Regions from separate parts of the Homo sapiens genome. Here region 2 is linked to region 1. Evidence: fine-mapped expression QTL. A gene starts in region 1. The other region holds a variant in brackets. All regions are shown on one strand. Distances are from middle to middle.

Evidence for each region.
Region 2: its variant is fine-mapped to the expression of LYRM4-AS1 in whole blood (TOPMed, PIP above 0.99).

Annotation. Positions count from the first base shown.
Region 1 is chr6:5,002,201-5,005,104 of GRCh38, reverse strand. LYRM4-AS1 (LYRM4 antisense RNA 1) reads right to left here and starts at 1,289. Exons shown (of 4, transcript NR_126015.1): 1 at 1,146-1,289. RPP40 (ribonuclease P/MRP subunit p40) reads left to right here and starts at 1,068. Exons shown (of 8, transcript NM_006638.4): 1 at 1,068-1,225; 2 at 2,860-2,904. The coding sequence starts at 1,103. RefSeq lists silencers at 958-1,087, 1,218-1,467.
Region 2 is chr6:5,035,219-5,038,122 of GRCh38, reverse strand. All of the region lies in intron 2 of LYRM4-AS1 (LYRM4 antisense RNA 1), which reads right to left. It also overlaps a transcript of LYRM4 not described here. Among named protein-coding and RNA genes, the nearest start is that of RPP40, 33 kb to the right of the region's middle. The variant C/G (reference allele first, on the strand shown) is at 1,649.

The sequences.
Region 1 (2,904 bases):
CTCAGCCTCCCAAAGTGCTGGGATTACAGGCATGACCCACTGTGACTGGCTTAGTTTTAAATTCTTAATTATTTACCTTGTAAACTACTTAATTCCATTTCTTCCACATCTCATAGAAAAACTGATGTTCCAGGAAGATGTATCACCAATATTCTGCTGTTTTGTATCCTGCCAGTGCAGAATTGGGGCTGTGCCTCTCTAGTTTGAGAAGCATGTAGTAACATACTTGATTTTGCCCTGATCAGTAACGTACCGCATGCTGGGAGCCGCAGTCTCTTAACCGCTCCAAGCCCGTGACAGAAAAACGAAATGGAAAAATGACTTAGGAGAATTATCACTATTAACCCCCAGAAACAACACATTATTAAAAGCGGTTCTGAAGGGCTATTTAAAAGGGAACTCAATAGTAGTTTCAAAGGAGTCCTATTGTAAGGCAAAAATTGTGCTTTACCTTCCCGCACAACCTTCCCTAATGTTTTGGGAAGGACTGATACAAACTTTTAGTCCTGTTGGCCTGTGTTAATAATGGCCAAGAGGTCCCCAATGGGTAACAGAGTCCTGTGAACCAAACAGTGTGAGAAGTCAGAAAGCAGCTGGGTGTGGCCCCCAAAGCAGCTTAGGGGGTTACTTAACTGTGCGGCTACATTTCTTGACCATATACTAAAGGAACTGGGCCTTTCCATGCGATGTTTTCCTTTTATAACGGTGGCAGGAAGCGGTCCCTCTGAGGGGCCTGACCGAGGTATGCGCCGGCGCCAGGCTGGGGTCCAAGGGGCGCTCCGAGGCGGGGCCCACAGAGAGGGTTTAGGGCAATTCCAAGGGATGGCGGGGACGGAGGAAAAGTGGCGTTGAAAAGGCAAGAGCCAGGTTCCCAGCCACTGGGACAGTGAATTTACAGCTTCAGACATCCACCAAAGAGCGGCTGCGTGGGCTCCTAAGAAGTCTAAGAACTGCTCAGAAATCCAGCGCCGCCATCCCCACTCCACCGCCGCCAGGGGCGCACAGCAGCGGGTATGCGGCCGGAGGGAAGGGGCGGGGCGGGAGGAAGGGGCGGGGCGTGCCCCGCCAGCGGAGGCCGGGAGGACCAGGAACCCAGGAGAGCATGGCCACGCTGCGCCGGCTTCGGGAGGCGCCGCGGCACTTACTGGTTTGCGAGAAATCCAACTTCGGCAACCACAAGTCGCGCCACCGGCATCTTGTGCAGACGCACTACTATAACTACAGGGTGAGTCCGGCTGTCCTCGGCTTTTCGGGCCGTGCTCAGTCCCCGCGTGCGAGAGAGGTTTGGGGAGAGTGCTAGGCTTCGCGGGGCGGGGCCGCCGGCGGTACGCGGAGGGGCGGGGCCCTCGCCCGGCTTGCTGGGAGTTGTAGTCTCTTAACTGCTCTAAGCCAGTGGCTTGCAGGGCTACAGGACTACAACTCCCAGGATGCGCCGGGCGTGGGGGCGGTACCCAGTCTGGAGGGAGCTGTTGTCAGGGGCGTTCTGGCTGCTCACTCGTGTCAACCCGCCGAACTGGGAGTGAGTCCAGGGAGGGATTCGAGGTTCAGGGCCGGGACCAGGGAGTTAGGCTGTGGGGCAGCCACGTGCACCTCGCTTTTTCCCCAAATCAGGGCGGGTCTCGCGCCTCCTCCCCACCACTGCCTCCTCCCCAGCTTGAATCCCTCTCCCACCTGCGTACCTGTGGATCTCACCAGAGCATCCTGCCTAGGCTCGGCCCAGGAAGCGACTGATTTTCCTTTTTTTTTTTTTTTTTTTTTTAGACGGAGTTTCGCTCTGTCGCCCAGGCTGGAGTGCAGTGGCGCGATCTCGGCTCACTGCAGGCTCCGCCTCCCGGGTTCACGCCATTCTCCTGCCTCAGCCTCCCGTGTAGCTGGGTCTACAGGCGCGCGCCACCACGCCCGGCTAATTTTTGTATTTTTAGTAGAGACGAGGTTTCACCGTGTTAGCCAGGATGGTCTCGATCTCCTGACCTCGTGATCCGCCCGTCTCGGCCTCCCAAAGTGCTGGGATTACAGGCGTGAGCCACCGCGCCCGGCCGAAGCGACTGATTTTCTAAATTGGTTGTTGGAACTAATTTGATATCTGAGAGACTTCAAGAAACTAACCTTATCATGGGGGATTAAACATTTTACACTTTAAATGGATCAGCTTAATAACTCAGGTTTGACTGAGCAGTGTTTCAGAGATGTTAAGTGGTGACCTGATCAGTCAGAACAGGCTGGTGTTTGAGCCTTGGGACAGTGATGACTTTTACAATGTGGCAACATTTGAAGCCTGCCCTGTTTTTAACACCTATTTTGGATGTCAAGCTCATCACAGCAGTCAGGGATGTATACTTTAACTCGCCTGTTGCATTTTTCTGTCTCGAAAATGAAAACATACAGGAGCACCATTGCTTGCACATAGATTCTTAGTAATTGGATGTCCATAAATTAATTCCTTATGCCCCGACAGATAGTTTGTTTCATTCCAGGATAACACCAGGGTAAACAAATCAAGGGATATTCAATTATACTATATTTCCTTGAAAATAAAATAGTGAAAGGAACAGGACATAAAATATACAGCATTGCTAATTTGCAAAAGATTAAATGCAAGCACGAGTTTTCCATTAAAAGTATTCTGTTCAATCCCCTTCCTGTACTGTACGTTTGAATGCAGAAATGAAAAACTTAAGTAGTCAGATTTCTCTTTGCCTGAGATAGGTAAGTTAACATAAGAGTTTTGTTGCCCGTGTTTTTATGTTCCAGTGAAACTCGTGGAGAAATAACAACTTTCATGATTTTGTTTCATTCCTAAAAACCTGGGTGTTCATCTTCATGGAAGTAAGACCTTGTTTGTATTACACATTCCAATAGGTTTCATTTCTCATTCCTGAATGTGGGATACTATCGGAAGAACTG
Region 2 (2,904 bases), 33 kb before region 1:
GGGAGGTGAGGAGCGTCTCTGCCCGGCCGCCCCGTCTGAGAAGTGAGGAAACCCTCTGCCTGGCAACCGCCCCGTCTGAGAAGTGAGGAGCCCCTCCGTCCGGCAGCCACCCCGTCTGGGAAGTGAGGAGCGTCTCCGCCCGGCAGCCACCCCGTCCGGGAGGGAGGTGGGGGGCGGTCAGCCCCCCGCCCGGCCAGCGGCCCCGTCCGGGAGGTGAGGGGCGCCTTTGCCCGGCCGCCCCTACTGGGAAGTGAGGAGCCCCTCTGCCCGGCCAGCCGCCCCGTCCGGGAGGGGGGAGGGGGGGTCAGCCCCCTGCCCGGCCAGCCGCCCCGTCCGGGAGGTGAGGGGCGCCTCTGCCCGGCCGCCCCTACTGGGAAGTGAGGAGCCCCTCTGCCCGGCCAGCCGCCCCGTCCGGGAGGGAGGTGGGGGGGTCAGCCCCCTGCCCGGCCGGCCGCCCCGTCCGGGAGGGAGGTGGGGGGATCAGCCCCCCGCCCGGCCAGCCGCCCCGTCCGGGAGGTGAGGGGCGCCTCTGCCCGGCCGCCCCTACTGGGAAGTGAGGAGCCCCTCTGCCCGGCCAGGACCCCGTCTGGGAGGTGTGCCCAGCGGCTCATTGGGGATGGGCCATGATGACAATGGCGGTTTTGTGGAATAGAAAGGCGGGAAGGGTGGGGAAAAAATTGAGAAATCGGATGGTTGCCGGGTCTGTGTGGATAGAAGTAGACATGGGAGACTTTTCATTTTGTTCTGTACTAAGAAAAATTCTTCTGCCTTGGGATCCTGTTGATCTGTGACCTTATCCCCAACCCTGTGCTCTCTGAAACATGTGCTGTGTCCACTCAGGGTTAAATGGATTAAGGGCGGTGCAAGATGTGCTTTGTTAAACAGATGCTTGAAGGCAGCATGCTCGTTAAGAGTCATCGCCACTCCCTAATCTCAAGTACCCAGGGACACAAACACTGCGGAAGGCCGCAGGGTCCTCTGCCTAGGAAAACCAGAGACCTTTGTTCACTTGTTTATCTGCTGACCTTCCCTCCACTATTGTCCTATGACCCTGCCAAATCCCCCTCTGCGAGAAACACCCAAGAATGATCAATAAAAAAAAAAAAAAAAAAATACAAGCTAAAGAGACAAGACTTCTCAATACTGGGGCAGTGATGTGCTTCAGAGACCTAGATAACAGGGGACTTTGAAGGGCACCCTCCTAGGAAGGACCTCCTAACTTCTCAGGCATCAGTTTCTGCTTCTGTTGACTCAGAAAGGAGCTCCCAGTGGTATAACTTGAGCGTATCCCGTGCCCGCAGGTCTCCTGAGAAAGTGGACTGTGTCTTCTCACTGTCCGGGCCCAAGGAGAAGATGTTGGGCTGAAGGGAAGCTCATTTAGAGGGAGGCCTTTATCTCAGGAGAGAAATTGATGCAAGATCTCAGTCCAGCAGGAAGGAGAGTGACTATCTGAAGCAATCGGATGCTTTCTTTGCAGAGGGATTTGAATTTGAAACTGTAGAGACCATCAGCACTCGCTAGTCTGGACAGAAGGAGACGGCAGGCAGAGAAAGCAGTGGTAGAAGTAACGAGTCAGGACAAACCATGGCCAAGCAGGGGCTGAGGTGGCCAGGGCTCTATGACAGCAGCCCCAGCTCCTGGAGCAGCA[C/G]ATGCCAGCTCAGCGGAGGCAGCTGGTGTTGCATCTCAGAGCTGCTGTTGAAACCACGCCCAGGTTGCCTGTGAATAACCTTCCTTTCAGGCCTCAGCAGCCTGCTGAGGCGCTCTCTGTTTTTTCCCTCCTATCTCCTAGGCTAACCTGGAAGAGCCTAATTAACACACGTGTAAATTAAGATCTCCTCTGGCTCAATATTCTGGAATTACACTGAGAAAACTCATTAATTCAGACCACTTCTTCCACATTTTTAATTATTCAATTTGGATTAAGCTGGAGTTTATTTTGCTCAACAAAATTTTATTATAGATATAGCTCAAATTAAAAAGAGAGGGGGCAGAGGAATTACTTAAAATATTTAAGGGAACATGCTCTTAACATGTTAATTTTAAACTATTTATTAAAAATTCATGACACAAGGAACTTCAGTTAGGTAAAATGAATAGAATTGTTAAGCTTTTTGCTTTTTATCAGCAAATATTTATTGTCCTTTCTTTGGGCCAGGCTCTGTGCTAAATTCCAGAACACAACATCAAATCAATTAAATAGGCATGATACTGTAGGTTAATTTAGAAATAAAAGTGCAACATAAGAAATATCTTGAAGTATTGTTTTTCACCACCTCCCCAAATATGTCTATATGCATACACATATACTAATATACATACATACATATGTGGGGGGGGGAAGGAAGGAAGGAAGGGAAGGGGGGGAGGGGAGGGAGGGAGGGAAAGAGGGGAGGGGAGGGGAGGGAGGGAGGGAAAGAGGGGAGGGGAGGGGAGGGAGGGAGGGAGGGGAGGAGGGGAAGGGAGGGGAGGGAGGGAGGGAAGGAAGGAAGGAGGGGAGGGGAGGGGAGGGAGGGAGGGGAGGAGGGGAAGGGAGGGGAGGGAGGGAAAGGAGGGGAGGGGAGGGGAAGGAGGGAGGGAAGGAAGGAAGGAAGGAGAAAGAGCCTTGCCTTGAAGCAGCTGGTGGGGGAGGTGGAGGAGAGTGTGACGGATCCCGCTGCTGCGATGCACGCTGAGCCAGAGGTGTGTGCAGGGCATGTCACCTGGCACTGAAGAAAAGATTTTCAGCTGCCCTAGGGGAGGGTCCAGAGAGACTTCCTGGGCATCACTGGGGCTGAGGCTTAAAGGATGGATCTGGGTGACTAGATGGAGAGGAGAGGGCACCTCAGGAAAAGCATCTTCAGGCAACTACAGAGAGTTCAATGGGACTGGACCCCCCAGGGTAAGGGTAGTGGGAAGCACAGCCAA